5 separate regions of the Homo sapiens genome follow, and regions 2, 3, 4 and 5 are each linked to region 1. The links come from fine-mapping of genetic effects on gene expression. A gene starts in region 1. Each other region holds a variant in brackets. All regions are shown on one strand. Distances are between the middles of the regions.

Region 1 (5,106 bases):
TATAAAAGTTTCCCTCTACTCAGATTAGCATCAAAATACTCTTAATGCTTTTAAAAATGCCATCATATGAACTGATTTGGATCTTTAGGAGTCAGAGAGATTTATTCACTTCCAATCACTTGAATTCGTGTCAGTGTTTCATGCTTCAATGACCCAATTAATTTCAGTGCCATTTTCTTCTTTCGGGCTTAGCAGCTGCTTTGTGGTGGCAAAGGTTCATTCAAATGTAATGTATTTGAGGGCAACATATGAATCTTCATGTGTGGCTTTACATTTCATTCAATAATAGATGCCCTTCTTTTCCCTGTGTATGATGTGTTATTTCTTTTGATGCATTCAAGCTTTTCTCTTTATTTTTTTGACTTTCAATAGTTTTATTACAATGTAGACTTCTTTGTGTTTATTTTAGTTGCTATGTATTTAGCATTTTGTACTAGTAAATGTGTTTTTCATCAAATTTGGGGAAATTCTGGCCACCACTCTTTCTTCAAAAATTTTTTCTGTCCCTTTTTTTTTCTACTTCTGTTGTTTACATGCATGTTGGATTGTCTGACATGTAGCAAATCTCTGTTGGTCTACTCACTTTTTAAAGATAATTTTTCTCTTTGTTGTTTACTTTTAATAATTTCTATTGCTCTATCTTCAAGTTCCCTACTTTTTCTTTTGTAATTTTTTTTGGCTGTTAAATTCACCCAGTGAATTTTTTATTTCTAAAATTATAATTTTCAATTTTCAGAATTTCCATTTGGTTTTAAAAATCTTTTTTTTTCTTTTTCTTTGCTGAGATTTTCTATTTGTCTCCTGAGATTTTCATTCATTGAAAACATGTTTTACTTCATTGAGGATAGTTATAATAGTCACTTTAAAATCCTTATCTGTCAGTTTCAATATCTGATTCATCTCAGGGTTGATCTCTAGAGTATGCGATCCATTTCCTTGAATTTCATATGTCAGATAGTTTTGGATAGTACTCTGGACTTTGTGAGTGTTAAGTGGAGAGTCTGGATTCTATTATTCTTCTCTGATGAGTGTTATTTCCTTTGTATTAGTAGGTAATTTTCCCGGCTAGATTTTAACTGAAAACTCTCTCCCTTTTGGAGACAGCTCTGGTCTCAGTTCAGATCTTTTGTTTTTAACTGAGCTGCTGTGATTCTGTTTTGGGTGGTTCAGGATCTCTCAGAGATGTGGGTTGACAGTTTGGGGATCCACTCTCTGACTCCTTCCTTGGGATTTCTTAATCTCTTCAGAATTCAAAATTTTCTGTCTTCACTTTTCTGCTTCCCCAGACAAGAATAACTGATAAGTTTTATACATGCATCCCTGGTACTGCTGAGCCTGACTTCTGGACTGCACTTTGCCCCAAGCTAAATGCCAAAGAGAGGAGAATTTTCTTGTGGAGTTCTTGATCTTCAAGCAAGCTTGCCCTTCCTACCAGTCTGCTGTTCACATTCCAGTATATTCAGCTTTTTGTATTGTGTCCAAGTGTAGTTCCTGATCTTCAAGCAAGCTTGCCCTTCCTACCAGTCCACTATTCACATTCCAGTATATTCAGCTTTTTGCATTGTGTCCAAATTGTTTTCTGCTGGGGGATGGTCCACTAGGGTCTTAGTCTATCATGGTTGAAAACAGAAGTTATGTCCTGCCTGGGACTTTGGATTTTGAGTCACCCTTGTCCTGGTCAATGCGATAGCCTCCTAACCAGTCTCTGTTTGTGTCCTTGCTCCCTCCAGTCTATCCTCAACATATCAGTCAGAGTGATCCTATGAAAACGTCCAGGAGCCTCCAATAGCTTCCCATTTCACTCACAGTAAATTAAAAAATACTTAAAATGTGCTACTCTGCCTGTTTGAAACTCCTCATCCTTGGCTTCCAGATCACATGCTTATGCTAGTTTGTATCCTACCTTTCTGAACACTCGTTCAGCAACTCGTGTTTCCTCTAATCCTGAAACGTGGGTCCACCCTGAAAGTATGGTTCTACTTTAAAGTTCTATGTCAGGGCACTGAGTAAGGCCTTTCCCGTCCCCAGCAATCAGAAACCAGGACCCCACTGCTGAAGGCAAAGAGGACGTATGTATCCCCCAACTTTCTCAGAGAGTTATCGGCAGCACTGACTTAAAGAGGATTAAGAGCTTCAGGGCGCAGGCTACTCTTTAATATTTTTCACGTTAGAATTTGCTCAGATTTGAATAAACGCAGAGCGAAACTAGAGAGCGTTCGCGCAGGTTCTAGCTACCTTGGTCAGAAGGAGGGGCTGATGCAACTTTCCTCCCAGTTTCTGAGCCCTCTCGCACTGCAGCTGCGAGCCTCGGGGAAGCGGAACCCACAGGCGCGCGCGCCGCTGCTTCTGGCCGGGCGCGGGTCGTGGTGCACCACGGGAGCGCCGCACCGGCCGGCATGGAGGAGCGCGGCGATTCCGAGCCGACCCCCGGCTGCAGCGGCCTGGGTCCGGGCGGTGTTCGCGGCTTTGGCGACGGCGGTGGAGCTCCTTCGTGGGCCCCTGAGGACGCCTGGATGGGCACTCACCCTAAGGTCAGGAGGCGCGAGAGGAGCAGGGCGCCGTCCAGGCCCCTAACCCAGGCAGAACACTCCCAGGCAGCTCTCTTTCTTTCTTCCTCAGTGGGAGACTGAGGACGCGCGCCACCCTCACCGAGGGGGACCGGTGTGCACAACTGCCAGCCTCAGGCAGCATCGGTTTTGTTTGTTTAAACAAGTTGCACTATCTCAATCCCCCAGCCAAAGCCATTTTGGAACTGAGAGCCAGACAGTAACTCCGCCCCTCTCAAGCCGGAGATCCCTAATAAGCGCTCCACTAGTTTTGCTGTCTAGGTAAATCCCCTTTGGGGGATAAATTTATTTAATCCTCACGGTAACCATGCAAGACAATTTGTGGGCGATGGATAAGATCTAGGGGTCCATAGTGATAAAGATTTAAGCACAGTCACGTTTACACTTAGCCTTGGGCCCAGAATGCATCTTTATTTTGAAAAGGTGCAGATTCCTAATATTTCAGATTTCTTCGAAAGTTTGAATAGGTTCTTGCTCAAAGCAGAGCTACTCACATTTTGCGTGTATTTTTCTAGATTAGCAGCAGGCGAGATCAAGATAGTCCTCTGCTTACTTCTGCTTGAGACATTACTGCCTTGTACAAGTACGGTTCCAAGCAGTGAATAGACAGTGAATGGAGATGTGGGTTTTGTAAGAATCTCAAAAACTAGTCTCTACGGTACTTTAACAGAATTGCACTCTTCTGCTAGAGAGCAATAATTCATAATCATCTAAAAACAGCCAAGAAAAAATTTGAAGGTATAAGTTTGAAGAGTTAACCTTTTTCAGCTTCTCTTGCTTAATTTTATCTTCCTACTCTGTCCCCTTCATCCTCCCAAAAGGTGAGAAAAAGAAACAATAGCATGGAAATATTATTTAGTGCCCTTTTAGGGAAACAATAGCATGGAGAGGCAGCATATTGGTTAGGCGCATGAACTCAAAATCAGACTCAGTTTAAATCCTGATTCTGTCACTTATCAACCTTGTGATTTGGGACAAGTTGCTTGATCTTATTATGCCTTAGTTTCCTCACCTGAAAAATGGGGATATTAATAGTCCATACTTACTTATACGGTTGTTACAGGATTAAATTAATGAATATTTGTAAGCCATTCAACATACAGAAAGCACTATATAAGTACTTAATAAGCGAAACACCAGTAACAACTTTTTAAGACTTTATCTAGATTTGGTGGTGTTATTCAGTTTATATACTTGTAGATTGTTTTCTTTTTCAAGTTAATGGCTGTATACACCTTGACCATCAAATCTCCCCTTTTGATTTCTCTTCTTGAAGGATCAAATTAATTTTTAAAAGAAAAAGAACAAGTAATAAAATAATAGGGGGTATTTGTTTTTCCAATTTCACCTTTCTGTTAATTTAAAAATTATGTAGTTTCATCCAGTAAAATGGTACCAGATTTATTATCCCCAAACACACTTTTATTTTATTATTCTCCTGCTTAGAAATCCTCAGTGTTTCCATACTGATAAAATCACATGTTTAGCTTGACCACCAAAGCCTTGTAACCTGGCTCAAAATTATGTTTTGGGTGTTATTTTCAAAACATGTTTGAAGTCGACAACTAATTAACCCCTGTCCTCCTGAACCTGTACAGTTACAGTGAAGCTGATGGGAGAATGTGACTTTAGACCTGTCCCCATGCAGGTCTGCTAATAATTCAACTCAGCATTAGCCCTGCATATCCACCTAGTCGCTGGCATAGCTGGGCAGCCTCAGAATTCTCCTGCAGGTGTAGGCCCCTGAAAAGTATTCCCCTTATGCTGACCAGTAGTCTGAAAGAAGCAGCTTTCTCTAGTTCCTTGTCAATTCCTTTTAAAAAATCTACTCTTAAAGTGAGAAAGAGTGGGTAGAGAGGCTAGGACTGATACTCTAGCAGATTCTCTCCATATACAAATAAGAGGCTAGGGAAATACACAGTACCCACTAACATGTCCCATCACAAGTTTTATTAAAAAGGTTTCTCTATTGCTGGCAGATAGGTTTCTTTACAGGCCCTTGAATGTATGTGGCTTAATCCCACCTTTGTGTAATTACCTGCAGTATTACTCTACTTCTCCACTTACTTAAATCATAATGTTCTTCAGTGCTCAACTTGTATCCCATCCCACCTCTGCTATAAATCTTTCACCAGTCCCTCTGAGTAGAGCTCTTCTGACCTGCTGTGTCATGTTTTTTATTCCATTTACATGGTTTTTAATCACTTACAGTCATATATTGTTATTTGCCTAACAATTTTAAGTGTGCATGTATTTAACAATTGCAAGTTCTTTAGAGACAGAGATAAGATCTTATATTGCCTTTTAACTTCCACTATACCTAGAAGAATTTTATAGATTATATATGCTTGATGACCACTTGATGATTGGAAGAAAATATTAAATAATTTTTTCTTCTCAATTTGACAATTATATTTTAATTTTCAGTATCTAGAAATGATGGAATTAGATATAGGAGATGCCACCCAAGTTTATGTAGCGTTCTTGGTTTACCTGGACCTCATGGAAAGTAAGTTGTTTGTTTATATTGTTTTGTTAT
Region 2 (5,106 bases), 21 kb after region 1:
ACTTCCATTTCATTTTTGACAGTGATTTCTCTCAACTCTGAAAACAAAACCCCTTTTACAACTCTGAGTTAGTTTTCAAATGTTAGGGTTTCCTGCATGGGTATTTGGGGTAAGTATGAAAATGTTTTGCTGCTTAAATCAAAGAACTCTGGAAACAGATATAAATTGAGAATGGAAAAAGAGTAGTGAATAAGATGGAAATTTCTATTCTAAATTTCACTATATGGGCTACAATTCCCATATAGTTTTCCTTAGTGAACACCACCCCCCAACACACACATACAAACACACCTTCTGATTTAAATAACATTATATCTTCAGAAATGGAAAATGTGTTAAAGTTGTGTTAACAGGCTTCCTTCTTGTCTGTGTCCCATTCTCATCACAGTCTACCAGTTAGGGATGTTTAGAGAAATTTATCTTGTGGCATTGAAGTGGCTTTATGTGCATTATATATTGGGTTTTATGTATATTGCATACTGTGAAGTAATCATGATACATGCTGACAACAAAAGATGTAGATAAGTTAAAATTTTAGTTGATCCATTGTCTGTTTCTTCTTTGCCATCTTTGTAGAAAAAAATTAATTCAAGATGGACAGCCTATAAAAATGTATCTTTTTCTATTATTATTAATTTAGATATTGGCGTGCCACTTTTGAAGAAGGAAAATACTTAGCTACATTAAAAGATTTGCATTGAAGAAGCAATTGTGATATGCTGCCTTTTATCACAGTGTGACTTCCCATCAGTGCTGAGTAATGAAGTTTCTGATTAATATCTATCGTTGCTTTATCAGAATATCTTTCTCTAAAGTAAATCATTCTTGTGAATAAGAATCTAGCTAGTTGTAATGCAGTTCAGCATAGGTGGAAATAATTTTTTAAGGACTAAGTCAATTTCTGGGATTCAGACTGTTTCAGAAAAGAAACATTTTCTGTATTTCCACTAATGGCACAGTGTACCTTAGTATGTTTGGGTTAGTATTCAGTTTTAGCAATAATCATGGAGGCAGGGGTATCTATAAATATTATATCCCAATTTGCAAGGTAGCAAAGTTGTATATATACTACATAATATGACCACTTGACAGTTTATGAAGTCTTTTCATATATGCCATTTAATTGATTCATATAATAATCTTATGTGTAAACATAAAGGTGTACTACTATCTTCATTTCAAGTATCCTTGAAAAGACTTTCTCCATTGAATTGCCTTTGTACCTTTGTCAAAAATCAACTGACCAGCCTTATAGCACGTTAAGAAGTAACTTATATGATGTTATTAACACAAAGGATGGGGGAAGGAATGAAGCTATATTGGAGTAAACAATGACACCAGACAGTTATGTGAAGAAATGAAGAATACCAGGAATATTAAATATGTGAATGTAAAAGACCCTAATATATTTTCCTTTCTCCTCTTAACTTTATAAAAAGAAAATTATTTAAAGTAATAATTACAACACTATATTACTGGGTTTAAATATATAAACATATATGACAATAATAGCATAAAGGTGGAGGAAAGGAATAAAGCTCTATTGGAGCAATTTCTATATTTTTTAGAATCAAGTTAGTATTAAGCTGAGAGAAATTGTGATAAACTAAGACGCAATAGTAATCTCTAGAGTCATCACTACGAAACTCAAGAAACTATAGTAAAAAAAAATACATTAATTAAAATGGTGTACTAGAAAATACCTATTTAATAGAAAAGAAGGTGATAAAGGAGGGTGAGAGGAAGTAAAAAGACATGTGATATATAGAAAACAAATAGCTAAATGGCAGGCATGAATCCAACCATACCAATGTTAATTTTAAATTTGAATAAACACTCAAAAGGGCAGAGATTGTCAGATTGGATATAAAAACAAGATCCAACTATATGCTATCTACAAAAGATACACTTCAGATTCAGAGACAACAATTTTGGAAAACTGTCAACTATTTCTATACCATTCTCTTTCCTTTCCTTCTGTGATTCCAATTATGTGTAATGTTGAACTTATTTGATACTATACCAGAAGACTCTGATGTTATTTTTTAAAATTATTTTTTCTCTTTTTACTTCAGTTTGGTTTCTTGTGACCTGTTTTCAAGTTTTCTAGTGCTTTCTTCTGTCACATCTCATCTAATTGAGTGACCGCAACTCCTAAGTATATTGTGACTTTATTTTCAGGATAAGGGAGATCTTGAAGGCATCTCGAAAGTTGCAAGGTGATCCAGATTTGCCGATGTCTTTTACTTTGGCCATAGTGGAGTCTGATTCTACAATAGTCTATTATAAACTTACTGATGGATTTATGCTGCCAGACCCTCAGGTCAGTTTTGAGGTAACTGACAGCAAGAAGTACAAAAAGAGGAAAATTATGACGTGATTTTAAGTGTGACTCAAGTCAGTCACAGAACTGCCACTTCCTTTGCCATAGGGAAAATTCAAGAAAAAAAGTCTTGATTTTCAGACGTCAGAAAATTGGTTATATTTTGTTCAAAGTAGCATGTTCCTAGTTATTTTTGCAAAAAAAAAATTGATTTCCTTACTCTTTGGAGAATTTCATGGTTTTCCAAAGTATTTTATGAAGTCATCATGCATTTAATTATTTAGTGAGTAGCTGAGGTGGAATGTAAAGGCTAATAATAGTTGTAAGTAAAAAAACGCTTATTTAAGAAATGTTAAATTGGTTGACATTTTGACAGGAACATTTTAATAAGATAAATGTGCTATATGTGATTTCTTTACATACTTTGTTGGTATAATTTGGATAATTACATTAAATATCTTTCTAATTTTGCTTTTGGATTACATT[G/T]TTTATCGGAGAAAAGTCCATCCTGATCTTTTTTTTTTCCAGAATATTTCTCTTAGAAGATGACATCCATGTTTCCTGATGCTTGTTTTATTCATACAAGATTGGATTTGAGACCCATCAGACTGCTTCATCTTTTATCTCAGAAATAGGGTTGACGTACATAGTGAGGGTTGACTTCCCCATTCCATAAGGTTTTCATTCTGAAGAGTAAAACTTCCCCAGGTAGAAGACTTTCTCCTTCTTAAAAAATATAGGGTGATTTCTTTAAAACTTTGTTATCTAGAGACAGTTTAATTACAGTTATATACAGGTTTATGCCTAGGATGTATTCAGATGGGTGGGACCTGTGTGCTGCTTTTGTCATCCCACACTCAAAGTTGTCTCTTTGTTTCTTGCTGCCACTGCCAGCTCATTGTTGAGACTGCCATTTCTTTCTCTTACTCAGCTCTCCCCAGTGCCTTTTGGCCACTGCAGCTACCGTAGAATGGCATTTTATATGTACCTTGTCACCCACTTCTGTTTACTTTTTCCTCTCCAGTAAAAAGTAAAAGATTTCTTTCAATTGGTCTTCCCATTGCAGTTACTGTTATTTCTCTTTTTTGGTTAACTTTAAATCAAAACTCAAAATATGTTCATCCAGAGTGTGTCTTAAGTAACTTACGTGTCTTAAGTAACAGGGACCAGAGACATGTTACCTACAAGAGTTCTGGGCTATCCTTTTCATTCTTATCACATATCATAGCTTGAATATTACAACAGTGTGGGAGAGAATCAACCGTAAAAATGTCTTCATTAATTAGACCCAGTTATTCCACTTTTGTTAATGTCTCTCAAATTGTACAAAGTATAAAAAATTATATGCACAAAGATGTTCCAAGTGACATTACTTTTAGTAGCCCAAATTATAAACCACTTTAAAGTTTGGGGTAAAGATTGGCAAACTTTTTCTATAAAGGGCCAGAAAGTAACTATTTTAGGTTTTTAAACCTACTGTCTCTGTCATAACTTGTCAACACTGCTGTATGAAGCACAAAAGCAGCCATAGACAATACATAAACAATACGGGCGTGGCTTTGTTCCAGTAAAACTTTGTTTACAAATGTGGTGCCATAGTTTGTCATCCCTGGGTCTAGGAAATAGTCAATAAACAGATATATACAAATGATACATAATGTACTTATTAAAAATTAGTAATGAATATTATTAAAAACATGAAAATATTACCTTAAGTAAAAATTGCAAGACGGAAAAGTGTATAAGTGGGTGTAATCATGGCTGAAATAACAGACCAAGCATATGATAAAAAGATAACAAAGTAAATCAAATTACTAACTGGTTATAGTGGGATAGGAGGCAGAAAATGGATGACTTTGTCTTTTCTCAATGTTTTTATTTGTATTTTATAATAAAAATGTTTTAAAATTAAAAGGTGTCTTGAAATCTGTATTAGTTATCTATCATTGCAAAATAATATTACCACAAATGTAGCAACTTAAAACAGCACACATTTATTATCTTATAGTTTTTGTGGGCAAGGGACCCGGGCACAGATTAGTTGGGTCCTCCATGAGGCTACAGTCAAGGTGTTGGGCAGGGCTCCAGTCTCATCTGAGACTTGACTGGGGAAGGGTCAGCTTTTTCACCCACATGGTTATTAGTAGCCTTCAATTTCTTGAGAGTGCTCAATGCTTATATGCCATTGGCAGGAGGCCACCCTCAGCTCTTTGCCACGTGGGCCTTCTCAATATAACTGGTTGCTTCCTCAAAGCCAGCAAAGGAGAGTCTCAGCAAGATGGACCTTATAATCCTTATATAATGTAATCACATACATCCCATCACCTTTGCCGTATTCTGTTGATTGGAAGCAGGTCATAGGTCCTGCCTACACACTAGGGTTTCATGGCTGATTAGGAAACAACAATAACAAGAATGGAAAAATGATGAAAATTAGGAACATCACAAAATAGTATAAAGCATCATTCTTCATCTGTAGTCATTCCTGACTCCTTCCTTTGATGGTATTTGAATTTCACTTTTATTCTTGGTGGGAGGTCTCCATAACTCCTTCAGGCTCCCTCTGCTTCCCCAGAGGACATGAAGATGGACCTATTCAGAACAATATGTGTTTGGGTGACTCTAGTGGAAAATTTGCAGGTCTAAGAATCCTCAAACAGTTTATGATAAATTCTTAGGGTCTCTTGATTTCTTAAGTCTCTCGTTTGATTCATTTTGAGGTCTTTCATTATAATTCTAGAAAAATAGCATTTTCAGAAAGAAGTGTAAGGATAATGTCAGAT
Region 3 (5,106 bases), 110 kb after region 1:
ATGACATTTGAGAAAAGATTTGAAGTTGGTTAGGGATCAAGGCATGCAGCTATTGGAGGTAGGAAGACTGAGAGGAAGTATTCTAGTCAGAGGGAACAGCCAGTGCAAAGACTCTGAGGTAGAGAGGTGACTGGCATTTTCCAGAAGGCTGGAGAATAATGGGCAAAGTAACGCATCAGTCATCAATTTCGCAATAATGCTGAGTAACAAGCAAACTCAAAATTTCAGTGGTATACAGTAATAAGCATTTAGGTTTTCCCCTCAGTCTCAAGATCAGCTAGATGGTTTTGCTGATCTGAGCTGATCTTGGTGGGGCTTACTCATGCTTTCACAGTCAGCTGCAAGCCAGCACAGCTTTGCTGATCTTATCTGAGCTCTCTTACATATCTGAGAGTTTTGACAAGATGACTGGGTTGATTTAGGTCTGCTTCCATATCTCTGTTTCTCATATCCTCCAGTAGCAAAAGAGAGTCAGAGAGAGAAAGGGAGGGAGAGAGGCTAGAGAGAGAGAGAGAGAGAGAGAGAGAACACACATAAGCCCTCTTAAGGCCTAAGTTCAGAATGGAGACTGTCACTTCTGCCACATTCTATTGGCCAAAGCAATTGATAAGACAAGTTTAGTTTCAAGGGATGGAGAAATAAACTCCACTTCATAGGAAGAGCTTCAGAGTCACATTGCAAAAGGTGTGAATATAGTGAAGGGTGGAGAATTAGGACCAGATTTGCCATCAGTCTGCCACATTGAGTTAGTAGGAGATACAGTCAGAGAGATAATGGGGATCTAGAAAATGTGGGGCCTTGTAGGCCAGGGTAAGACCTTTGGCTTTTACTCTAAGATGAGAAGCCATTGGAGAGTTTCCAGGAGAGGAGCAACACAATCCTACTCTATTTTAATGAAATCACCCTGGCTGTCAGATTACGAATAGACTGAAGTGGGGCAGGAGACCAGTGAAAAAGACATTCCAGTGATCCAGGCAAGAAATGAGGGTGGCTGGGCCAGGAAACATAGTTAATAGAAGTGCTGAAAACTAGTCAGATTCTAGACATATTTTGAAGGTGGAGTTGTCAGGATTTGCTTACAATGCAAATGTAGGATGTTAGAGTAAAAGAGGAGAAATTTTGGAAAGAGCAACTAGAAAAGCTGTGTTGCAATGTACTGAGATGATTAAAGCTATGGGAGGAGGAGGCTGCAGGGGGAAATATTCTTGAAAAATCCCCAACTACTTGCCAGTTTTTTACTATCTTTGAATGCCATCAACTTGACAGGAAGATTTGACTGAAGTCAGCCAGGGACTCTCCCACAGTCCTTTCTACCAGCTTAGACTTGGGTTCTCACAGATCCAGAGATAACCTCCACTGTAACATACTGCGCAGCCTGCTTCATGTGTACAGCCAGCATCCTTGTCATTAGCTGTGACATCAGCTCCGACTGGTTGCAGCACCCACTCTTGTTTCATCATCCATTCTGATTGGTCAGAACCTTATTTAATTATTGTTCTCCATAGCAGAGCCAAAAGAAACACAATGTGAATGGAAGTGCCCCTCTTTCTAAAAGGCAAAGACCACGTCTTATCCAACTTTGCACTTCTAGATAAAAGAAAGTGAATAAGTCTACTTAGATTCTCTCCATTCATAGCAAAAGCATCTCAAGTTGCATACTCTACTAAGGACTGATGTAACATTTTTTTACTCTGAAGAAAAGGTGCATTGAAAGATAAAAATGATTCCAGGCATGATTATTATAATTCACCAAATATTCTGTGCAGAATTTTTAAAAAATCCCTGTATTTGAATAGGTAAGGTAAAAGTTAACTATTGAAAAGGAGGAATATTTGTGTTCCTTTTGACTCCTTAAATTCTCATCTTGGCTCATGGAGGAGGGGATTGACACCAAAATTTCAGTCCTATCTTAACATGAGAGGAAGTGCAGGGAGGGAGGCTCTGTTACAGTAGGTAGCTAGTCAGACATAAGCATGGCAGGAAAGGACTCCCCTTGCCCCACCAGGAAAGTCAGGCGACCATCAGGTGATGGTTAGGTGGTTGTTACAATATTTCTCTAAACATAACATTAATAATTGGTTGTAGCCAGCCCAGGGAAAGGCAGTCTCCCAATAGATAGAAAACACCTGAAACCGGTGATCAGCAGCTTCCTGATAAGATATCAGGAGTTGGGCGGGTAGGCTCTAGCATGTGCACTAAGGCAAAATGGCGCAACTTAACTGGTATATGACCTTCTAAGGACATGCAACTGGTAAGGGAAGAACGCCTCAAGTGAGCATGTGTACAACTCCAGTACAAACACTGCGCATGCTCCCCTCCCAGATGCTAGCAGGCTGTTGCACATACGGACAGCCCCTCCCAAGGGAAGAATCCGGGAGAAGGAATGCAAGACCCTGGGAGCATGCCAACATATAAAACCCTAAGTCAAAAGGTCCAACTGTGCACTTGATCTCTCAGTTCGCCCCCTTGGGCCTCTTCCAAGTGTACTTTACTTCCTTTCGTTCATGCTCTAAAGCTTCTTCTTTTTTTTTTTTTTTTTTTGAGACGGAATCTCACTCTGTTGCCCAGGCTGGAGTGCAGTGGCGTGATCTCGGCTCACTGCAAGCTCCGCCTCCGGGTTCACGCCATTCTCCTGCCTCAGCCTCCCGAGTAACTGGGACTACAGGCGCCCGCCATCATGCCCGGTTAATTTTTTGTATTTTTAGTAGAGACAGGGTTTCACAGTGTTAGCTAGGATGGTCTCCATCTCCTGACCTCATGATCCGCCCACCTCGGCCTTCCAAAGTGCTGGGATTACAGGC[G/A]TGAGCCACCGTGCCCGGCCTAAAGCTTTTTAATAAACCTTCACTCCTGCTCTAAAACTTGCTTCAGTGTTTCCCTCTGCCTTATACCCCTCTGTGGAGTTCTTTCTTCTGGGGAGTCAAGAAGTGAGGCTGCTACAGACCCATATGGATTTGTCTGCCTCCCTCAGACAAAAATGGCAACTCTGGGCTGGGCATGGTGGCTCATGCCTATAATCCTAGCACTTTGGGAGGCCGAGGCGAGTGGATCACTTGAGCTCAGGAGTTTGAGACCAGCCTGGGCAACATAGTGAAAACCTTATCTCTACCAAAAAATACAAAAATTACTTGGGCATGGTGGCATGTGCCTGGAGTCCCAGCTACTAGCTGAGAGGTGAGAGAATTGCTTGAGACCAGGAGGGCAAGGCTGCAGTGAGCTGAGATCTCACCACTGCACTCTAGCCTGGGGGACAGAGTGAGACCTTGCCTCAAAAAACAAGCAAACAAGCAAACAAATGGCAAGTCTGATTGGCAAATGTGTAATATTTACTAGGACATGCTTTATTAATGGGTAGGAATTGACTCTGCAGAGTGAAACCAGCCCAACGCATTCCCTTCACTGGGAGCATGCTGCCAAGGTGTGGGCCTTCACTCTGTCCCATTGCGGTTCATTTATGAAGCAGCCTTAGTCCTTGCAACTGGCTATAGCTGGTGAATTTGGGTGGGCTCTGCGTACCTAACTCTTCTCTCAGATACATGAGGTGAGCAGTTCCCAAAGTCTAGTTTGGGTGAAGAGTAGGAGGCCTCATTTGACCTCAGCCATGCTCTCTTGCATGCAGAATCACTTGGCCAGTGCCCCATCTAGCTCCCTTGTGTGAGCTCCCCATCAGTCAGAGATGACAGGGATGAGTCATCTCTGAAGAACTTGAAGCCCTAACATCAGCATCAAGCCCAACTGAGATATTTAAAGAACTAGGATTTTCTCTCATGTTAATCCTCAGCATAATCTCCCTTCTCCTTTTTTTTTTCTGCTTCTAGAATAGTCCTTCTTTATCCCTTTATTTCCTTTTCTGAGGCATATTTAATAGAATGTGAAATTGCATATTTATTAATGATGGCTTTTTTGGTTTCAAGTAACAGAAACACACTTGAGCTCTCCAAAAGCAAAGAGATATAATTTAGTTTAAGAAATAGGCCTGTCTCAAAACTCAAGGGCAAATAAATAGCTGAACTTCAGAAATAAATCAGAGCCTCCAGCGTAGTCAGGACCCACCCTCCCATCTCTAGGGTAGGTGACCACACATGCCAGTATGTGCCGGCCTATCCTTGTTGACATCTGTCACCCTGCCCCTTTCACTTTTGTGTCAGTCTTTGTCCATGAGGGGGCAGAAACCACAGTGACTTAAACAGAGAAAGTTTAATATAAATTTTTTAAAATTATGTTAAAAGAGCAATTATAATATATAAGATAACTCTATGTGGTACCCTAAGGCTGAGTACCCAAGAGAGTACCCAAGGAGGGATGAACATAAAACATAAAACAGGATGAACATAAAACAGGATGAGCCCTTCCCCAAGGCTCAGATTGCAACCACTGGATGGCAGAGAAGTTTGCTGATTTGCCCAGGCCAGAGCTGGTCTGCAGCCACTGGGCAAGCAGGAAGCAACCCTCTGGGGCACAGGTGGCACATTACAAAAACTGCAGCCAATGGCTTGGCACGTGAGCATGCAGAGGGAGTAGGGACACCATTGCAGACAAGGAGGTCTGGAGCCTGCAGTGTCTGTGGTAAGAAGGCCATGGGAAAGTGGGCATTAGGCCAGGACAGAGCTGCAAGGACATCAAGGAATCATGAGTTCTGGGCCTGTGGCTGGAATTAGAACACCACTGATGTTCCCACACCCACACTGCTGCCTGATGGTGCAGCCACCACTAACACCAGGAAGGCTCCTTTCTCCTGTAATGTCCCATCAGGGCCCTCTACTGAGAAAGCTTCACATGGTGAATGATCAAATCATTTTTTCTCTGTAAAGAAGAAATGCCCAATGGAATTCCGTCCATTATTGCAGAGCAGGTATTGAAGGGTGAATTTGAATCTGAAAGTCAGTAAATTATTAGCACAACTCTCAACAGTACCCTGGTAAGAATGATTAATTCCCAGAAGAGTGAAATCCATAGGGAAAGGAAATAGAATAATAGTTGCCAGGAGCTGTGGGGCTGTGGGAATGGAGTTACCCGTTAATGCTTATAGAGTTTCAGTTTGGGAAAAGGAAGACATTTTGGAGATAGACTGTAGTGATGGTTGCACAAAAACGTGAACATAATGCCACT
Region 4 (5,106 bases), 38 kb before region 1:
CTCAGTGGCATCATGCTGTGGCTCAGTGAGGGACTCTGAATGGGGAGGAGGCCATTACTTGACATATAATTACCAGTGGCAGCAATCTACCAAAGAGGCTAATGGAGATCCAAGGGCTATTTCAGCTTTTTCAAGAAACAATTCAAAGCCTTGTCAGAATAAAATCCACATTTCCTCTTTCTCCTTAGTACATTTCCCTACCTAGAGTCAAGCACGTTAAGACACTGTTCACAGCTGTAAAGTGAATGCTAGCTCGCAGGTGCCAGCCCCGTGGTTTGCTTTGGGAGCCGATTTAATGAAAGCTGGAATTGGGACCAGTAAAGCTTTCATTTCAGGGCCATTCTCCAACATAGTTGTCTGACAACTTAACTGGGAAAGATAAATTATCCAGAGAGAGATTACTATGCACAACCTCCTTTTTCTTTCCAACTCACTCCAGAGTAATTCCAACCTCCAGTTACCTTCCAATCTGTCTGCTGAAAACCTTTTCCTTGTTTACTGCCATCTGCTACATAGGAAACCCAGACAACCTCCATCCTCACTACTCTGATTTAAGGAGCCAGACAGTAGGTGCAAACCCGGCTTCCTTGTTCCAATCGGCTGTTATGCTTCTTCACTATTTAAACGTGTGGTCAGGGAGCATTCTCTTAGTAATTCAAGGGGTCACCATCTCAAACTCTTCCTTTGCTCTCAATGTCATTGCGTAGTTATAGTCAGTAGGCAGCTCTCTCGGCTGCCTACTTTTAGATGGTGTAAACCCTATATGTAAAACCTACATGTGAGGTGTAAGTGGGTGTCAATCTGGGCAGTTGGTTAATATGTTCCCAGACTGTGACATAAACCAATAATAAATGTAACTGACCAGCAGGGTTTGGCTGGAAATGAAAATCTTACACATTCTCTGCACTCGCACTGGCTTTTACCATAGAATATTTTATTATAATTCATAATTGTGTAATCTCCAAGAAAACTATAAGAAAATAAGGGAAGGAAAAGGGCAGAAAAGGAATGATTTTTCTTTGTCCTTTCTCATGCCTGTTGAGGATGACATTTCTCCTTTTCCCCAAAAAAGAATAAAGAAAAATAGGATATCAAATAAAAGAGAATAGAGTTTTCCCACAATCTCTCATGCATCTAGACCATCATGGTCCACAACCCTGCATTTCTGCTGCCTCCTTCTTTAGGATGATGAGTAAAAATGATTTTTCAAATCCACTAATCTTATAAGCCTTTTTGTGCAAATGTCTCTCTAAGTATTTAAAAACACTGTAAAATATTGTATTAGTAATACAAACACAGAAAAGAAACTATTTATTCAGAGATTTTGATAGTCACCAAATCTAAAGCCAACCATGTGTGTGTTATTCCCACAGCATCTAGGATTATTAGAGGAAAAATATGTTTTCTTTTAAACAAAATGAAAACATGATGCTGGATCACATTTCCAAATTCTTTTTCTTAAAAGAGAGAGAAAAAAGATTGAATCTATTTTCATAATAAGTATGGATGACTCTTGGAAACAATGAACCTTTGTTTTTACTGAACTTAGCAGTATAATCAAGAAACTGTACATTTTCAGTGTGTACATGGAAATTCTAATAAACATAAAATTCATCCTCACTGTGCATTTCAAAGGCAGTCTATTCCTATCATCAAAAAAGCAAAATAAGAAAATGGTTCCCACAGAAGAGAATCCCAATTTTTCTGGTTCTTGAGAAAAGCATGTGATCTCTGTTTTGATCCTAACTTTGTAACCAGATAGGCCATTGAGGAACTTGGAGGAGGAAACAATCAGTTGTCTTTGAGGATCTCAGTTTTATCATAAAATGCAAATAAATAAAGTGGCTATTGATGTGAAAATCTATTACAATAACTTGTTTACCTTTTCCCAAATATTTACCGAGCAGCTTCCTATAAGGCACCTCAGTGCTAGAACCTGGAGATTCAAAAAGAAGAGGGCGGGCCCTCAAGAAGCTGAGCCTAGGGGGCAGATCCAAAAAAGTAAACATAATTAAGAATAGTTATAAGAGTGTTAAGGGAGGCCAGGTGCGGTGGCTCACGCCTGTAATCTCAGCACTTTGGGAGGCCAAGGCGGGTGGATCATTTGAGGTCAGGAGTTCAAGACCAGCTTGGCCACCATGGTGAAACCTCATCTGTACTAAAAATACAAAAATTAGCTGGGTGTGGTGGTGCACGACTGTAATCCCAGCTACTCAGGAGGCTGACGCAGGAGAATTACTTGAACCTGGTAGACAGAGATTGCAGCGAGCCAAGACTGTGCCACTGCACTCCAGCCTGGGCGACAGAGTCAGACTCCATCTCAAAACAAACAAACAAACAAAACAGCATTGTGGGAGATTCGGTAAAGCACACAATAGGTCTCAGCCCAGATTTCAATACCTGCAAGAATCTACTCAAAGAAGGTGTGGTCTGTTACAAACCTTAAAAAATAGGCAAGTGGTGTGGAGAGGTAGTCTGAATCTAAAAAAGAGCATTTATAAAGGTCCAGAGGCCAGAGAGAGTTGTGGCCCTGTGGAAGGCAGTTCAACATGATTGCAGCATGAGGGAAGAATGGGGAAGGACGGGGCGGGAGAAACTGGCAGAACCCTTGTATCTTGAAGGGCCTTGCATGCCATTCCAAGGTATACGGATTTTACCCTCAAAGGTCTTTGAAGGTTTGGGAGTAATATGGCCAAGTTTTACCTAAAGAAAGGTCATGTAGCTTCCAGTGTGTATAATGGATGAATTGGTGGGAGGGGGGGTAAAACAGAGGGGCAGAGCAATCCATTAGGAAATGGGAGATGGCGGTGACTTGAACTAAGGAAGTGGCAGAACAGATAGGAAAAAGTGAAAAAAATCTAGAGGATTAAGTAGGAACAACTGACAAAAACTGATTAATAACTTGATATGGATGATGGGGGAGAGGTCCATGTTTCTGTTTTGGGCAAATGCTTGCATGG[C/T]GGTGGGAATATAGGAGACAGAGCTGGTTGAGAAAAGGAATGAGAAAGTGGAGAGATCAGTCTGAGATATAAGTTAGAGGAATCTCTGGACCATTCACATGAAAATGTCAGGAGATCTCTAGGTCTTGAGCTGGAGAGACACCATCAGGGAGAGAATAGAGAGTTGGGAGTCATAGGCATACATTTGGTAACTGAAGCTACAGGAACGGACCAGACTACTTGAGGTGAGGTTTTCCAACGAAAAGAAAGCCAAATCTAGATCCCAGGGGAACACCACTTTTAAGAAACATGTATTGAGAAATGAGTAAGCCAAAGGGAAGACAGCAAGGTAAGAAGAAAATTAGGAAGGTGGAACCATGGATCTGAGCGAAGGCACTGTTATAAAAAAGGAAACTGGTCCACATGATTGAATGCAGCAGAAAGGGGACTGAAGAGAAAGTGAAGTCAAAGTGACACTGGATTTAATGAGGGGGATTACTCATTAAATGGTGATCTTGGCAAGGAAACTTTCAGTGGAGTGGTGAGTGTGGAAACTTGATTATGGAAACCAGATGAGAAATGAATGCAAGTGAGAATGCTAAACTGGCAAATGTCGACCATTCTCTCAAGAAGTTTGACTCTAAGTCCTTGAAGGCTGGCACTGTGCCTCATTCTCTGTTGTATCCTGAGGTATAATATCAACAAGTAATAAATAAATATCTGTTGAATTAATTCTAAACAAGGGAAGAAGATGAGGCAAAGGCTACTGGGAGGATGGGTCAAGGAAAAGGATGAGATTGAGAGTAAAAATGAGAAGTTTACTTTAGACAGGATGAAATCTCTCTTCCAGAAGAACAGGAGTAGAAGAGGTCACAAAATTGAAATAATTTTCATCCACTAGCTTTAGTTTTATTGATGAATTCAGAAGCAAGGTGATCTACTGAAAATGTCCATGGAAATGATGAAGTAAGTAGATCTAGAAGAGTAAATAGCAAGCTTTGCAAGGGAAACAAAAAGATCAGTGGGCAGCTGAGGGCCCACTTGAGGGTGGAGGGATTCACCCTGTGTGACAAAATTAACACAGACATGGGGCTGGGGGATGAACAGTCCTCAGAACTAGAGACTGCAGGAGGATGGATCTGGGATTGGGCTTTTTCTAGTGGGTAAAAAAAAAAAGATGCCAGAGGAAGGGAATCTCAGATATTTGCAATTGGTCCACGCTAGAAGGAACTGAAGACCAAAGGAAACTTTGGTAGCAAGTAAAGTATCAAGAGGGTCTTAAAGAAGATCAGATCAGATTGTAGGGAACATGGCAGAATGAGAGCTGAAGGTTTGTTATAGAGGGATATTCTATGTGAATGTAAGGTAAATACACATCTATCCTGTTGCTTTTAGGTCTGGCTACCATGACCAGGTGCTCTAACCAACGTTGCCAACCTCATCTCATTGCCCCCAGGCTCTCAGAACAGTGCCTTGTTCCTCAACCCACTGTGCTTCTTTTGTGATGCTGGGCTTCCCAAGGGGAGAAATGCAGTATTTTACTCACTCTGAGAGTCCAATTCCCGCCATTAGAGACATTCTTGATATCTGTAGTGAATGAATAAATGAAAGAATGTCTCCGCATGTTTGCACATCTTCTAATTTGGTGAAATGTAGACTGTTGTGCTCACTCTCCCTGTGTAGGTACCTATGGAGTATTCTAAGTTCTGAGATCCCACGCAACAGATCCCTGGCCCTCTGCCATGATGTTCTTCTGTTGAAAGTTAGGGAAGATGCTCTAGAAGGAACTGTGGGGCTGATGTGAAGGAGAGGTGATGCTTTAGTGCCAGATGACAAGCCAGGGAGTTCACAGAACACCTTGTGGTGTAGAGAATTTGGTAAATTGAGTAAAAAGCTATCTACGTGAAACTATAAGGAGTCCCTAAGTCCCAGCTGTAGATGCCATAGATGTGGCAAACTATTAAATATTAGATATTCTAATTCACTGTAATTTATTGACAGTCACTATTAGCTTTAGTGAATATGCTGAAGAAGTTAAAATGTCAAAGGTGATGTTATAAAAATGAATTCTTACTCCAGGCATCAAACTGTCATGGGTGGCTTTATTTATAGACACATAGTGGTTTCTGAGGCCATACACAGTTAATAAAATGTGACAGAATGAGTT
Region 5 (5,106 bases), 86 kb after region 1:
GGTCAGGAGCTGTGTTCCTTTGGAGGAGGAGAGGCGCTCTGGTTTTTAGAGTTTCCTGTTTTTCTTTTCTGTTTTTTCCCCATCTTTGTGGTTTTATCTACTTTTGGTCTTTGATGATGGCGACGTACAGATGGGTTTTTGGTGTGGATGTCCTTTCTGTTTGTTAGTTTTCCTTCTAATAGACAGGACCCTCAGCTGCAGGTCTGTTGGAGTTTGCTAGAGGTCCACTCCAGACGCTGTTTGCCTGGGTATCAGCAGCAGTGGCTGCAGAACAGCGGTGGCTCTAGAACGGCGGTGGGTGTAGAACAGTGAATATTGGTGATCCGCAAATGCTGCTGCCTGATTGTTCCTCTGGAAGTTTTGTCTCAGAGGAGTACCTGGCCGTGTGAGGTGTCAGTCTGCCCCTACTGGGTGGTGCCTCCCAGTTAGGCTGCTCATGGGTCAGGGACCCACTTGAGGAGGCAGTCTGTCTGTTATCAGATCTCCAGCTGCGTGCTGGGAGAACCACTACTCTCTTCAAAGCTGTCAGACAGGGACATTTAAGTCTGCAGAGGTTACTGCTGTCTTTTTGTTTGTCTGTGCCCTGCCCCCAGAGGTGGAGCCTACAGAGGCAGGCAGGCCTCCTTGAGCTGTGGTGGGCTCCACCCAGTTGGAGCTTCCAGGCTGCTTTGTTTACCTAATCAAGCCTGGGCAATGGGCAATGGCAGGCGCCCCTCCCCTAGCCTCACTGCTGCCTTGCAGTTTGATTTCAGACTGCTGTGCTAGCAATCAGCGAGACTCCCTGGGCATAGGACCTTCCGAGCCAGGTGCAGGATATAATCTCCTGGTGTGCCTTTTTTTAAGTCCGTTGGAAAAATGCAGTATTAGGGTGGGAGTGACCTGATTTTCCAGGTGCCGTCTGTCACCCCTTTCTTTGACTAGGAAAGGGAACTCCCTGTCCCCTTGCACTTCCCGAGTGAGGCAATGCCTCCCCCTGCTTCGGCTCACACCCGGTGTGCTGCACCCACTGTCCTGCACCCACTATCTGGCACTCCCTAGTGAGATGAACCCGGCACCTCGGGTGGAAATGCAGAAATCACCTGTCTTCTGTGTCTCTCAAGCTGGGAGCTGTAGACCAGAGCTGTTCCTATTCGGCCATCTTGGCTCCACCTCTATCTCATTGTTTTCTAGTTTTGTCTTTATTACTTCCTTTCTTCTGCTTGCTTTGGGTTTAGTTAGCTTCTCTATTTCTAGTTTCCTATAGTGGGTGTTTAGGTTATTGATTTAATATCTCTCTTCTGTCCTAATGTAGGCATGTATAACTCTATATTTCCTGAACTTTAATCACTGCTGTAGCTGTATCCTACAATTTTTCATATGTTGAGTGTTTTTGTTTAGCTCAAAAATTTAAAAATTTTCCTACCGTTTTATTTGACAAACAGTTTAGATAGAAGTGTTTTAATTTTTAAGTATTTTGTGATTCCTTAAACTTCCTTCTGTTTTTGTCTAATTTAATTGCATTGTTTTTGAAGAACATACTTTTGATTATTTCAAACCTTCAAAATTTACTGAAACTTGTTTTTATGGCCTAGCATATGGTCTATTCTGGAGAATGTTCTATGTATGCTTGAAAGAATGTCTATTCTGGTGTCCTTGAGTGGAATGTTTCATAAATATCAGTGAGGTCAAGTGGTAAGTTTAAGTCTTCTATATCCTTGCTGCTTTTCTGTCTAGTTGTTCTATCAATTATTGAGAGTGGAGTATAAAAATCTCCATCCACCATTTTTGAGCACTGTCATTTCTTGCTCGGGTTATTGAAATAGCTTGGCACTCCTTATCCACCATGCCTACTTTACTTTTTCCCATAGGATTTATCTTCACCTGACTTAGTATATATTTTATTTATATTCTAGAATATAAAGGTCCCATGCTGTCAGGCAGTTTTTATCACTGATGTATGCCTGGCACCAAGAACAGTACCTGACACATACTTGTCACTCAAAAATATAATATTTTTTTAATGTATGCATTCATCACCAAACAAATGGCACCTTCTAGTTTCTCGGGTGAGTGTGAGACTCCTCATCCCACTATCTGGAATAATCTGAAGTGGGTCAATACCAGTGGAATCCTGAGAAATTCAGGGCAAAGGGTGGGAGATATAAGGGGGTAACTACTGCTACTGCTTTTGGCCACAGGGAGAAACTTTCCCTTTCTCCTTGTGTTTTTTGTTTGAATTTATCTCTCCTTGAATTTTTATTTTATTTTATTTTATTTTTGTCTCAACCTCATGGGCTCAAGCTATCCTCCCATCTCAGCCTCTTGAGTAGCTGAGGCTACAGGCATGCACCACCTTGCCCAGCTAACCTTTTTCTTTTCCTTTTTTTTTCTTTTTTTAAATTTTTTTTTCTTTTTTTCCTTTTTCTT[A/AT]TTTTTTTTTTAAGAGATGGGGTCTAACTCTGTTGCCCAGTCTGGTCTTGAGCTCCTGGACCCAAGTGATCCTCCCACCTCAGCCTCCCAAAGTGCTGGGATTAGAGGCATGTGCCACCACACCTGGCCTCCTTGCTCTTTGCATTTTCTAGTTATCAAAGTGGTAGGCACTTCAAGACCAGAACTGGATATAGGTATCAAGGAAATATGCCACTGTGCTTGATTTTGATCCAGACTATTTGGCTGCCTTCTCCAGGCAAAGGCATCAGGTGACCCTGTACATCTTAGTAGGTATTAAATCACAAGTGGGGAAGGAAAAGATGGGTTAAAACTTCAGAACAATACACAAAAATGTTTTCCCCTGCATCTGTACTTTTTCCTCCTGAATCTGAGACAAGTTTCCATAGGTGACTGGTTCAGGATTAGGTGCTCAGGACCCCGGCCAAGTATTGTTCCATTTTAGCATGATTGACACTATCTGCTTAGATACATGTCTTGGTGTAGCTTTGAAATTTAATGCATATCCTGCTTTGGAGGGCTGTAATATACAACAACTTCAGAAAAAACCAGCATGCACTATTTATTATTGAGTGCTTGGCATATGATAGCAAGATACTTTTCATGTATCTGGCATATCAGTTACTTTACATAATCTATATGCTTAATCAATTAAAAATGAAAGAAAAGATTAACTGATATTTTTCTTTTACTTATGAAAATTAGGCCTAAGTTTTACAAACTTTTCTCATATGGTCTGTATAACCAACTGGAACTCAGGGAAGAGGTCTGGGCTGGAGAAAACAGTTTGGGCACCATGAATAAATCTATGGTCATTAAAGCTGGGAGATGGGTCACGCCTTCTACAGAATGAGAAGGGGAAAGCATCTGGATAAAACTTTGAGGAACAGTGATGTTTAATGAGTAGAAGATGATGAGCCTGAAAAGGCAGAGAAGGAGCACACAGAAAGGTAGGAGGAAAATGAGGAGAATATTGTATCCAGGAAGGTATGCATCATCTTTCTGAAAACTTGCAATTGTCCTTGCTTTGGGGGAGTCTCGCTACTGGTAAAGCACTTATCATTTAATAATAAATTCTCATTACGTGAATGATCCTGCAATTGTTCTTGACTCAAATAGTTCTCATGCAGAGATACTTATAACACTTGGTAACATGAAGACTTTTGTGTTAATAAGACTCTGTGCTGGGTGCAGTGGCTCACACCTGTAATTCCAGCACTTTGGGAGGCTGAGGTGGGGGAACACCTTAAGGCCAGAAGTTCAAGACCAGCATGGGCAACACAGCTAGACCCTGTCTCTATAAAATTAGCCAGGCATGGTGGTGTCTGCTTGTAGTCCCAGCTACCTGGGAGGCTGAGATGGGAGGATCGTTTGAGCACAGGAGTTTGAAGCTGCAGTGAGCTATGATCACACCACTGCACTACAGCCTAGGTGACGGAGCAAGACACTGTCTAAGAGAAAGAAAGAAAGAAAAGAAAAGAAAGAAAGAAAGAAAGAAAGAAAGAGAGAGAAAGGAAGGAAGGAAGGAAAAGAAAGATGCTGTATTTTCATCAAAATAATTTCACTCCAGAGCTGGGCATGGTGGCTCGCACCTATAATCCCAGCTACTCAGGAGGCTGAGGTAAGAGGATTGCTTGAGGCCAGGAGTTCAAGACCAGCCTGGGAAACATAGGACGACCTCATCTCTAAAAAAGTTTTTTAAAAATTAGCCAGACATGATGGTGTCTACCTGTAGTCCCAGCTACTCAGGAGGCTGAGGCAAGAGGATGGCTTGAGTCCAGGAGTTCAAGACTACAGTGAGCTATGATCATGCCACTGCCCTCCAGCCTGGGTGGCAGACTCAATCTCTTTAAAAAATTACTTTACCTCAATCCTTGTGCACCCTGCAAGTATGATATACTCTCTCAATGACTCCAGAATCCATCCGTGACCTTTTGGCATTCTAGCGGTAATTTGAATAACGTCAGTGAAACATGGCAATAGCACTGTACAAATAAATTGAATTTATTATTACGGCTCTCCCATGATGAAATTATTTATTTTTGTGTTTAATTTTTTCATTTTAAGAAAGAAAAGTCTTTCTGTTACCCAGGCTGGAGTGTAGTGGAATAATCATAGCTCACTGAAGCCCTCAACTCCTGGGCTCAAGTGATCCTCCCACCTCAACCTACTGAGTAGCTGCGACTACAGGTGCACGCTACCATGCCTGGCTCATTTAAACAATGTTTCTGTAGAGATGAGGTCTCACTTCGCCGCCCAGGCTGCGAACTCCTGGCCTCAAGCCATCCTCTAGCACTGGCTTCCCAAAGTGCTGGGATTACAAGCATGAGCCACCATGCCCAGCCAGTCTTCAATATTTGTGGCAGTAAATAACCAATGAATTTTTATTTTAATGCTTTAGTCTCAATAACAAATTTATTTGTAAGAGTGCTATTTTATATGATTTATACATTCACTCATTCATCCATCAAACATATATTAAGTACCTACTGTATGCCAGACATATAATGTTAAGATGCATGAGGCATGGTTCTCAAGTTTAGGTGTGCACTGAAATCATATGGCAAACTTGCTAAAAATACTTATGACCCCATCCCACTTTTTGTATTCAGTAGATCCAGGGTGGGTTTCAGAAATCTATTTATAGCAAGCTTTCCATGTGATTCTGATGCACAACAAGAT

Which allele goes with the higher level. Positions count from the first base shown, and alleles are read on the strand shown. Sizes are in standard deviations (SD) of each study's normalised expression. Not every link is listed here.
With allele C in place of T in region 4, the expression in monocytes of the gene that starts at base 2,371 in region 1 is lower (moderate effect, 0.46 SD a copy in BLUEPRINT).

What was found. PIP is the estimated chance that this variant, and not a neighbour inherited with it, causes the effect.
Region 2: its variant is fine-mapped to the expression of TSEN15 in whole blood (INTERVAL, PIP 0.95).
Region 3: its variant is fine-mapped to the expression of TSEN15 in whole blood (INTERVAL, PIP 0.95).
Region 4: its variant is fine-mapped to the expression of TSEN15 in monocytes (BLUEPRINT, PIP 0.95).
Region 5: its variant is fine-mapped to the expression of TSEN15 in whole blood (INTERVAL, PIP above 0.99).

What each region holds. Positions count from the first base shown.
Region 1 is chr1:184,049,360-184,054,465 of GRCh38, forward strand. TSEN15 (tRNA splicing endonuclease subunit 15) reads left to right here and starts at 2,371. Exons shown (of 5, transcript NM_052965.4): 1 at 2,371-2,531; 2 at 4,995-5,076. The coding sequence starts at 2,397. RefSeq lists enhancers at 1,290-2,225, 1,978-2,087, 2,148-2,277, 2,156-2,450.
Region 2 is chr1:184,069,976-184,075,081 of GRCh38, forward strand. TSEN15 (tRNA splicing endonuclease subunit 15) reads left to right here. Exons shown (of 5, transcript NM_052965.4): 4 at 2,182-2,323; 5 at 2,852-4,237. The coding sequence ends at 2,872. Among named protein-coding and RNA genes, the nearest start is that of TSEN15, 21 kb to the left of the region's middle. The variant G/T (reference allele first, on the strand shown) is at 2,810.
Region 3 is chr1:184,160,177-184,165,282 of GRCh38, forward strand. No RefSeq gene overlaps it. Among named protein-coding and RNA genes, the nearest start is that of TSEN15, 110 kb to the left of the region's middle. RefSeq lists enhancers at 1,404-1,483, 3,745-3,804. The variant G/A (reference allele first, on the strand shown) is at 2,802.
Region 4 is chr1:184,010,993-184,016,098 of GRCh38, forward strand. The region is part of intron 1 of COLGALT2 (collagen beta(1-O)galactosyltransferase 2); the gene reads right to left. Among named protein-coding and RNA genes, the nearest start is that of COLGALT2, 24 kb to the right of the region's middle. The variant C/T (reference allele first, on the strand shown) is at 2,961.
Region 5 is chr1:184,135,606-184,140,711 of GRCh38, forward strand. No RefSeq gene overlaps it. Among named protein-coding and RNA genes, the nearest start is that of TSEN15, 86 kb to the left of the region's middle. The variant A/AT (reference allele first, on the strand shown) is at 2,407.